Linked DNA regions of Homo sapiens: region 1 is linked to region 2. Evidence: fine-mapped expression QTL. A gene starts in region 2. The other region holds a variant in brackets. All regions are shown on one strand. Distances are from middle to middle.

Region 1 (5,381 bases), 31 kb after region 2:
TTCCTTGTATATTCCAGACTTACAGGAAAGATCTGTCAAGAATCAATGAATGGATAAATTCTGGGGTATCCATTGGGTTACATTAGTGTGTCATTTACAGTTGTATCATAGAATCACTTTAGTTAGACCTGTTGTGGTGCTAGCTTGAGATTTTCGTGATACCAAATAATAATACTATAATAGATAGAAATAAAATACCTTTTAAATCAAAAAGTACTTCATGATTGTCAGCTAATTTTATTATAATTGGTGAGGCCATTCAGTATACATAAAAGACTTGTATTTTACTAGATGTTTTGAGGCAGTAAAATTGTCAGACAGCGAGATAGCATGTCTTTTGTATTGGAAATGCTAGCTCTTTCACTTTATTACATGTTGGGCACTATTTGGCATTGTTTTGGCTGTTTTACAAGAGTCTCCTGCTCCAGGTGCCTCATTAGCTATGTTAAGCACACAGTTTCTTATCTGAAAATTAAAAATGCATTGTGCTGTATACACCATAGAATACTATGCAGCCATAAAAAGGAACAAGATAATGTCCTTTGCAGGGACATGGATGGAACTGAAAGCCATTATCCTCAGCAAACTAACACAGGAGCAGAAAACCAAACACCACATCTTCTCACTTATAAATGGGAGCTGAACGATGAGAACACATGGACACAGGGAGGGGAGCAACATACACTGGGGCCTGTGGAGGGGGCGGAGGGAGGGAGAGAGCATCAGGATAATAGCTAATGCATGCTGGGCTTAATATCTAGGTGATGGGTTGATCTGTGCAGCAAACCACCATGGCTCAAGTTTACCTATGTAACAAACCTGCACATCCTGCACATGTACCCCAGAACTTAAAACAATTTAAAAACAGGAAAAAAGATAGTTTTTGCATACATCTCTTAGTGCTATTTCTCATGTGTAAGAACATACTAAGCCTATTAATATTTCTTGACTGGATGGACAAATGGGCTTCAGTTAAAGAAACATTGAAGGTCAGGTGTGGTGGCTCACGCCTGTAATCCCAGCACTTTGGGAGGCCGAGGTGAGTGGATCACTTGAGGCCAGGAGTTCGAGACCAGCCTGGCCGACATGGTGAAACCCCATCTCTACTAAAAATACAAAAATTAGCTGGGCGTGGTGGTGCATGCCTTTAATCCTAGCTACTCAGGAGGCTGAGGCACGAGAATTGCTTGAACTCGGGAGGCAGAGCTTGCAGTGAGCCGAAACTGCACGACTGCACTCCAGCCTGGGCGACAGAGGGAGACCCTGTCTCAAAAAAAAAAAGAAAGAAAGAAAGAAAGAAACATTGAATAAATTGCTTTTGAGCATTAATCTTGTTTCATCATAGTACTTACTGTCTAATTAGGCTGCAGACACACAAATAGATAATTACAGGACAGTGTTTTATGTGCTACAGGGGAAAGATAGGGAATCATAGGAGCATGTCCTTCTGGTGGTGTCAAGAAAGGTGCGGCTCTTGAGCTGAGCCTGGAAGGAAGAGTAGGAGTGTCCTTAGTAAATGCAAGAGGGGTACATTTCTGACAAATGGAATGTCAAATATAGGGACTGCTGAAGCAAAAAGATTGAATATTGAGTTCTTTATAAAAACTTATTTTTACAGCATTGGTTGGATTTTAGGTAGAAACTATTCAGACATGAGCAAGATGATTTCAATCACTCCATTGTGGTTATAATCATATAAATGTTTACCCTTTCTATTGTTCCTGGTTTTCTTTTTTTTTTTTTTTTTTGAGATGGAGTTTTGCTCTTGTTGCCCAGGCTGGAGTGCAGTGGGGTGACCTCGACTCCCCGCAACCTCTGCCTCCTGGATTCAAGCAATTCTCTTGCCTCAGCCTCCTGAGTAGCTGGGATTACAGGCATGCACCACCACACCCAGCTAATTTTTAGTAGAGATGGGGTTTCTCCATGTTGGTCAAGCTGGTCACGAACTGTTCCTGGTTTTCAAAGGGACCTTTCTACACTTTCCTGGCTAGGTAGCATGTATTAGTGAGACATTCTAGACTTGAGCTGACACCTTTCATTTGAAGCTGGGGAAAATAAAGGGAGTACATTTTGAAAGATATTAATTACAATATCTTCTGATTATTGAATGCCTACTGTGTGTCAGAAGTTATTCACATACCATCTTTTTTCACTCAAAACACTCTGAGACAGGCCTTATTTATTTGTATTCCTGGATGAAGAAACTGAGGTTGAGATGGTGGGGAATATGCCACATAGTTAAAAAAGTAGCAAAAGTGGGATAAGAGTCTAGTGTTGTCTGACTTCAAAGCCCGTGTTCTTTGCACTGAAAACAAGACCCTTAGCAAAACCCTGGAGTTTGGCTACTGAGACTTTACCAGAGAATAAGCTTACTAAAGCAGAGAGCATGAGTTGAGGGTGGGAGAAGATAGGATCCAATCTATAGAATAGGTGGAAAATTATACCTTTGAAGGTTTGTGCATTTTGGTTTGGAAAGTGATCAGGAGCCCCTAGCGAGCTTGAGTGGCAGAGTGACGTGCACACTGGCAAGTTCTCCTTTTACATGGGAGCGCTGTACCAGACCCTTTTGTTGAAGAAAGAAGGAGTGTTTGGATAAGGTAAAGAACATTTGGCACTTAGAAAATTTAGAATAGGATAGACTAGAATTGTGAAGTCTTAGGCAAAATGTCTCTGTGGGGTCAGAGATCAAGAGGCGAAATTTAGTGTTGCAGAAAAGAAAGTGATTGGTCTTGTCACTGATTTTGCCCCTCATAACATTTCAAGTTCTCAGATGTTGATGCTGGCAAGTATTTTTGTCTGGTGAGTGAAGAGTGGTGCTCTCTGCTGAGGAGTGCACAGGCCTGGAGAAGGCATGGGAATACACTTACAGGAAATACTCTTGCCTCAGAAAGAACAGTGAATCTGCTCAGGTTGCCACTTTGCAGCTTAGGACAGGATCCCATTGCCTGTTTATGTGTTTTATCAACATCTGTCTGATCACTGGATGGAAAGTTTCAGACGATACCCGCAAATGCCCTCTGTTGGGAGGCCCACAGGTTTCCATAATTGCAGTGGCAGAGGAAGAAGCCCCAGTGGGGTCTTATCAGTCCTGCTTAGAATTCACTGCCAGCCAGAACTGTTCTAGAGCCTTTGCTCTTTTGTTAATCATTTCTCTTGAACTTAGTGGCTTTTCCCTCTCGGTGGTACAAATTTGACATTTATAAGGATGTCTTACTATGATTTAGTTCCTACAGGTCTATAAAATTATAACTTTGGGAAGTAGTTCTCCTTCATTCAATCTATGGAGCAGTAAACATTATCCCTTCTTTTAGCTTCTTTGAAAGCTTCCCTTAGCTCATTTGATTGAAAGGACTTGAGGCACTTTCCATAAAGAGGAGGATGGGTGAGTCACTCCCTGCAGAGACCCTGCTGCCAGCTTTCCTTCACCTAAACAT[C/T]TTGCACCAGTTCAGCGTTTAGCTTGTCATTCTGACATGGTTTTTTGCATAGTTCAGCTCTGATGTTTTCTGAGCAGCAGCATTGAATATCTCCCTGAAAAGAGATAAAAGTTTATACCCTTTGCTTTCCTAAGGCAGATGTGTCATCAAGCAGGGGAGGACTCTGGCTGATAGAAGTCACTCTTTTTGTTCCCTTTTGCCCTTGTTTTTAAGACTGTTGACACTTGAACCTTCTTCACTTTTGGCTTATCCCCCAATTTTTGCCCCATCTTTCAGGGAAATAACAGTCTGTTATGAAATGTTCACAGCCTAGTTGGAAACTTGATTTATGAGCTCTGAATACATAAAAATGATTGCATTTACCAGCTTAATACTTTTGTTTCCTCATCTCAGAGTACAGTATACCTAGATAAAAAGATAGCTGTAACAGGAGGGTATAGTAAATTGTGTTAGAGACAAATATTTTCTGGAAGCTAAAGTGCTTTCCTGAAAAAAACAGTCTGTATTTGCAAATATGAAAGAGACAAGTGGCTTTTTCCTATTGGTGCTTGACATCTGTAATAGATAATAGAAAGGATAACCCCTTTTCTGTCTGGTCACTCTATGGTTTTTCTTCACAAGCTCAGATTTCCAGAATCCTGTTAAGAAAAAGGTGAGTCAGAGGTTGCTAGCCCTGCTTCCGCACTGGTGGTCAGGAGAGGATTGTGCAAAAGCTTACCTCTCTGGAAATTGGATCCTAAAGGACTCAGTTTAAAAAATAATGTTGTTAAATTCTAATTAAGATTCAGAAAAGACATTTTTGATTTGAAAATAAAACCATCCGTTAGTTTTCTATAACCCAAATGCATATTTGTAAAGAATACAAGATTAAAATGTCCCTAATGAACTGGGCCTGGAATAGGACCTCTGTTCATGAATATTCTCTATCATTGTATTGAGACAGGAAGGAGTGAGCTTCCCCCAAAGGTGACGCACAGTTGAACTTGAACTTTTCCTTAGTGTAACCTCCCTCCCTCTTACTTCTCCCCTAAATGTTTCTAGCATTATGGGTTTGGTTTCTAATCTTATTTTGCTGTGCAAGCTGCAAGAATGTCAGGTTTTTCTGACTATTCCTCTGCCTTCTGATTACCCTTTTAAGCAATGCTGATTGCAGGAAATTGCTATGGTGCAAGGCGGGTGTCACAACACACAGTGATTAAAACCCGCATGTGTCATTCACTTCTTGATTGAAGTAATCATACAGAGGGGAAAAGCAGATGAAAAACCTGCTAAATGTGCAGAGGGGGTCTGTTTCTCATCATTTGGGTGTAAGGATTTTGAGTTAAAGAATAAAAAATAGTGTGAGTAAGACTTGTGTTTTTAGTGATTTTGCTTCATTCTGAATCCTTAAAGCTTCTCAGCAAGGCCTGGGCCTCTGAACATGATCTAAGAAAAACGGGTTGTTGCTTTATACCAAACACATGTTGCCCAATGTACGCGACTATAAGTGGTTGAGCATATCAAGGGGAAAGATGCTAGAATGTAAATGGGACAAGCAGATGAAAACAAAATGGGAGATGCCTGAATAGCTCAAACTAAGTTCCTTATTTTTATTTTTATTTGAGACAGGGTCTCACTGTGTCGCCCAGGCTGGAGTGCAGCGGCACGACCACAGCCCACTGCAGCCTTAACCTCCTGGGCTCAAGCAATCCTCCCATCTCAGCCTTCCTAGTAGCTGGGATTACAGGCATGAGCCACCACACCCAGCCACCAACTAAGTTTTTTTATCACTCTTTCCTTTGGTCTGCGCGATCTTGAGAGAATAGTTAAATTGAAATGGCAGTTTTATTATTTTAGCCCTATGTGGCTCTAAAGCGATTTAAATTATTTGGTGCTTCTCAAAAGTATTAGTTCCATTGGGGCATAGCAATTTGGGCTAGATATAGTGGTCAGTATAGAAAATACAGC
Region 2 (5,381 bases):
TTTGGTAAGATAAAAGCTCAATCTTTCTTTTTCCCCAAAATGTGAGTCTGGCCCCCTGACTTAGGAAGATGATACCTTTCCTGAAGAAGAGTAACTTGATGCTGAGTAGGTTGAGCTCTTTGAAGATTTCTTATGAGAGTCACAGAAATCCTTACTTGGCTGTTCCATGTTCTTTAAAGATGTCAACAAACCTGGCTTTCCCAGTTCTCCAAGCAAAGAAAGAATCACCCAGATTACCATGGGCAAGTGGCCATGATTTGGGAGTCACCACCCACTTGCCTTTCCACAGGCAGAAACAAAGCCAATAATGCAGCATTGAAGGATGACATCCCAGGTAACTACCCTCATACCATCTGCCTTTGTGAAGACAGATGCATGCACTGATGTTACCAAACAACATGATGACCAGAGTAGCTGGTGCCACAAAGTCCAATGGGCCTGGTACTCATACTGGAGATCTAGGTGTAACTGTCTCTAGGGCTGGAATGACAGACATCACCATCCACTCAGTTGTCCAAGCCAGAAGCCTGGGGCTTATCTTTGACTCTGACTTGTCTTTAATTTTCATCCAGTCACTAAGTCTTGTTGATTTTTGAATCAGACTGCCACCCTCCATTCCCATTGCCAAATTTCAATTCAAATCACTGTCAGCTTTGTCTCCATTATTGCAGTTGCCTCTTGTTTTATCCTGCCATGCCATCAGCCTTGTTCCTCTCCAAACCTTTCTCCACAGGAAAGGAGAATTTTTCAAAGTGAAAGTATAATTGTATCATCTTCTTATTTAAAATCTTTCAGTGGCTTTCCACCGTTTTCAGAGTAAGATTCAGTCTGTTAAAATGGCTTACAACAGAACAGAGAACCAAATACAGCATGTTCTTGTTACCGGAAGGGGTCCTGATCCAGACCCCAAGAGACACAAGAAATAATTCAAGGTGAGTCTATAAAGCATAAGGAAGTTTATTAAGAAAGTAAAGGAATAAAGAATGGCTACTCCATATGCAGAGCAACCCTGAGGGCAGCTGGTTGCCCATTTTTATGGTTGTTGATTATATACTAAACAAGGGGTGGATTAATTCATACCTCCACTTTTTAGACCATATACGGTAACTTCCTGACTTTGCCATGGCATTTGTAAACTGTCATGGCGCTGGTGGGAGTGTAGCAATGAGGATGACCAGAGATCACTCTCATCACCATCTCGGTTTTGGTGGATTTTAGCTGGCTTCTTTACTGCAACCCGTTTTATCAGCAAGGTCTTTATGACCTGTATCTTGTGCTGAGCTATCTCATCCTGTGACTAAGAATGCCTTAACTTACTGGGAATGCAGCCCAGGTCTTAGCCTTATTTACCTAGCCCCTATTCAAGACGGAGTTGCTCTGGTATAAATACCTCTGACATTCTCACTTATAAGTGGGAGCTAAACATTGAGCAAACATGGACCTAAACATGGAAACAACACACACTCCAGGCTACTAACTAGAGTGGGGAGGGCGGGTGGTGTGGGTTGAAAAACTATTAGGTGCAATATACCCATGTAGCAAACCTGCAACCTACCTGGGTGCAATATATCCACGTAACAAACCTGTACCTGTACCCCCATTTGTAAAATAAAAGTTGATTTTTTTTAAAGGCTTACAACGCTCCCTATGACCTGGCCCCTGCCTAACTCTTCAGTCTCATCTGTTACTCTCCCTCCAATTGTGTTTCAGCCAAACTCAACTATTCTGTTTCTCCATCAAGCTTTTGCATATATTGTTCCTTCTGCCTCTTCACGCCTCTTGACTCAGTTAAGATGCACTTTTACCCTGTTAGCTTTCAACTCGGGTTTACTTCATCCAAGGACTCTCTGACCCTCTTCGCCCCCAAACTTGGTAACGTTCTTCTGTGTGCTCCCAGAGCACACACCCTGCCATATCAGAGTTGCCTGTTTTGCTCTGTGCATTCCCCACCAGACTGCAGGCTCATTGAAATCATAGGCCACATTTTGTTCATCCACATATCGTAACCACCCTCACAGTGGCCTGGCACGCAATAGACACTCAATACTCTTTCTTGAACGAATAGAAGATAGGAGATTTAAGCACCTGGAAGAGAAATTTTGAGCAGCAGAGACACTGGGAGGCAGCCATTTCAGACGAGGTGAAAAAAGGTTCAAAACCTTCTGCGTCAGGAGCATGCGAGACACAGTCCAACCTCTTCCTTGGCCTCAGCCCCGCCCCGTTTCTTTCACCCAGAACTCGCCTCACCCCCCTGCGCTAGTGACTGCTTGTGACCTCATGCAGGTGTGATGAAGTCGCTCAAGGCCATGCTTGGGCTAAAGACACTTTGATCTTCCCGAGGGGGTGAAAGGGCGAGGTGACAGGAAAGTGCGCGTCTTGCTTTTGCACTCATAGTTATCATCCACCGGGGAGTCGGTACACCGGCTCGTCTAGACAACCAGGCGCCATGGGTGCGTCATCAACTAGTGACGGGAGAAGACGGGGCGGAGAGAGATCCGTGAAGGAAGTGACGTAAAACGAGCGCCACAGAGAACGCGAGCCGGGAGTCCGTGGAGGCCATGGCCCCTCGGCGCCTCCTGTTGGTTGGGGAGGGGAATTTCTCCTTCGCCGCCGCTCTGAGCGAAACCCTGGATCAGAGCACTCAACTTACCGCCACCTGCCTCCAGCGCCCGGCCGAGTTGGCTCGGGATCCACTGGCCTGGGAGAATCTGCAGTGCCTGCGCGAGCGAGGTAGCGAGCCCGCCCCTCTGCGAAACCCCGCCCAGCGGCCGGCGCGTCCCAAAGTGGAAAGGGTGGGGGCGTGGGGATGTAACCCACGTGGAGATTGTTCTTGATCGTCCCACGGATATTCACATAAAGCCGGCTTTGTGCCCAGACTTGGGCTGGTCTGCACGGTTTAAGTTAGGAAGAGTTTTTCTGTTCCATGTCTTGAGGCATCCTCCTGTCTATATTTTGCGCCCCCAAACTATCTTTGCCAGGTATCGATGTACGTTTCGGTGTGGACTGCACCCAGCTGGCAGATGTCTTTGAACTGCACGAGAGAGAATTTGATCAAATTTATTTCATCTTCCCGCATTGTGGACGCAAAGCTGGCGTAGCTAAGAACAGGGAACTGCTTGCCAAATTTTTCCAAAGGTGAGGAAAGGAGCGCCCTCACAAGGAAAATGTTTAAGATGTCCATAACATAGTTACTGTACCCAAACATAAGGCACACGTGCAAGCTACTATGATATGTTTAGAAGAGACTATAAAGCCCCAAAGGAACCCCAAGTTTAGTTGGAAAGACAGATATATAAACCCTAAATGCTAAATGAAAGTACAAATAATGTACTCTTGGGTGTGTAAAAGAGGATCATTTATTTTTGACAGTGCAAAATAATGAGAGCCATATAGTCTAATGGCTAAGAACGTGCACTTAGAAGCCAGACTGCCTGGATTCAAATCCCAGCCCACCACTTAACAGTTGTTATTTTTTTATTTTTATTTATTTTTATTTTTTGAGACAGAGTCTCGCCCTGTCGCCCAGGCTGGAGTGCAGTGGTGTGGTGCAATCTCGGCTCACTGCAAGCTCCGCCTACTGGGTTCACGCCATTCTCCTGCCTCAGCCTCCCAAGTAGCTGGGAGTACAGGCGCCCGCCACCACGCCCAGCTAATTTTTTGTATTTTTAGTAGAGATGGGGTTTCACCGTGTTAGCCAGGATGGTGTCGATCTCCTGACCTTGTGATCCGCCTGCCTTGGCCTCCTAAAGTGCTGGGATTACAGGCATGAGCCACCACGCCCGGCCAACAGTTGTTATTTTAAGCAAGCTTACTTAATCTTTACATGCTTCCGTTTCCTCAACTGTAAACTAGGGATATTAATAGTAACTAACTGGGCCAGGCGTGGTGGCTCATGCCTGTAATCCCAGCAGTTTGGGAGGCCGAGGTGAGCAGATCACCTGAGGTCAGGAGTTTGAGACCAGCCTGGCCAAAGTGGCAAAACCCCGCCTCTACTAAAAATATAAAAATTAGCTGGCCGTGCTGGCACGTGCCTGTAGTCCCAGGTACTTGGGAGGCTGAGGCAGGAGAATCGCTTGAACTTGGGAGGTGGAGGTTGCAGTGAGCTGAGATCGTGCCACTGCACTCCAGCCTGGGCGACAGAGCAAGACTCCATCTCAAAAAAAAAAAAAAAAAAAAAAGTAACTAACAGCCTCATAAAATTATTGTGAACTGAAAACAGTGCTTTACATGATTATACCACAAGACATGATACTATTGGAGGTGTCCGATGGGGCATAGCTGTCAATAAAGTTTTGACAGAGGTGGTATTTTAAACTAGTATTTGAATTTCAGGAGGGCAGTGAAAAGAACTTTCTAAATGGGAAGAAACAGCCTAAGCAATGAATCATATATAGGAACTGTGCAGATATTGATCTTTCTGTGACATATGCATGAATGACACAAATGCAAAGCAGACCCTGGTCAGCCAATCTTATCAGTGAGTGGGTTGAACATTTAATTTATGCTTCTATTTACTTCCAGCTACTTTCTTTGCATTTTTTGAGGTCTAATAGATTTTTGCACATAGGTATGATTGGATTTTAATTATTTCACAGGCAAACCATGTGTATGTTGCCAACTCCTGTGGTAATTTCTGCTTGTTTATGATAATTAGTTAGTGTTTCTTTTCTCCCTATTAGCTGTGCAGACGTTCTTGCAGAGGAAGGAGAAGTCCACGTGGCATTATGTAGAGGACAAGGTGGAACTCCTGCGGATAAGCCCCAGAGAGAATGGCACAACAGTTGGCAAGTGGTTGCCATGGCAGCCCTGGGGGGGCTCATTTTAAGCGACGTGTATCCATTCAGCTGTAAGGCTGTGGCAGGGTACAAGTGCACTGGATATAGGTAGGTAATAGCATAGGTTTAAGCCTTCTGCGTTTTCATCTCTCTCACTAATGATAACAAAATCTCATAGACAGACTCAATAGGCCCTGCCAATTAATTGATTCGGTCTCTAAAAATACTTGCTTATTTTAATAATGACAGACTTCATATTGGTGTCTATTTTGCCAGGAGTCAAGATAAGTCCTTTCATGTAGAAGGTGCTTTGAACCATATCTTCACCAGGAGCTTACCTTTTGAAGGTTCTCAACCCAGAATCTTCAGGATCAAACTGGGTAACCAGTGGTTTTCCTTTCCAGAACCAGAAGCACTTGTAGGAAAGTTGAACAGGTAACCAGTTATTTTGCTGGAAATCACTTCCATCTCCAGTTGTATCCTGATTGTCTTGATGGCAACCATATATTGAATGGATGGTGCATAAATTGTTAGTGATGTTGGTGCTATGTTTATTTGTCAGCCTGGCCTCCTTAAGCATCTCTAGAATTATAAATGGTCACATTT

Evidence for each region. PIP is the estimated chance that this variant, and not a neighbour inherited with it, causes the effect. A credible set is the group of variants that fine-mapping cannot tell apart.
Region 1: its variant is the best candidate, but not a certain one, in a credible set for the expression of FDXACB1 in whole blood (TOPMed, PIP 0.53).

Annotation. Positions count from the first base shown.
Region 1 is chr11:111,844,958-111,850,338 of GRCh38, reverse strand. All of the region lies in intron 8 of ALG9 (ALG9 alpha-1,2-mannosyltransferase), which reads left to right. Among named protein-coding and RNA genes, the nearest start is that of ALG9, 24 kb to the left of the region's middle. The variant C/T (reference allele first, on the strand shown) is at 3,435.
Region 2 is chr11:111,876,310-111,881,690 of GRCh38, reverse strand. It overlaps FDXACB1 (ferredoxin-fold anticodon binding domain containing 1), which reads left to right and starts at 2,526. Exons shown (of 5, transcript NM_138378.3): 1 at 2,526-2,730; 2 at 2,979-3,135; 3 at 4,680-4,883; 4 at 5,052-5,210. The coding sequence starts at 2,559. It overlaps CFAP68 (cilia and flagella associated protein 68), which reads right to left and starts at 2,150. Exons shown (of 4, transcript NM_022761.3): 1 at 2,086-2,150. The coding sequence starts at 2,130. RefSeq lists enhancers at 2,273-2,742, 2,239-2,858.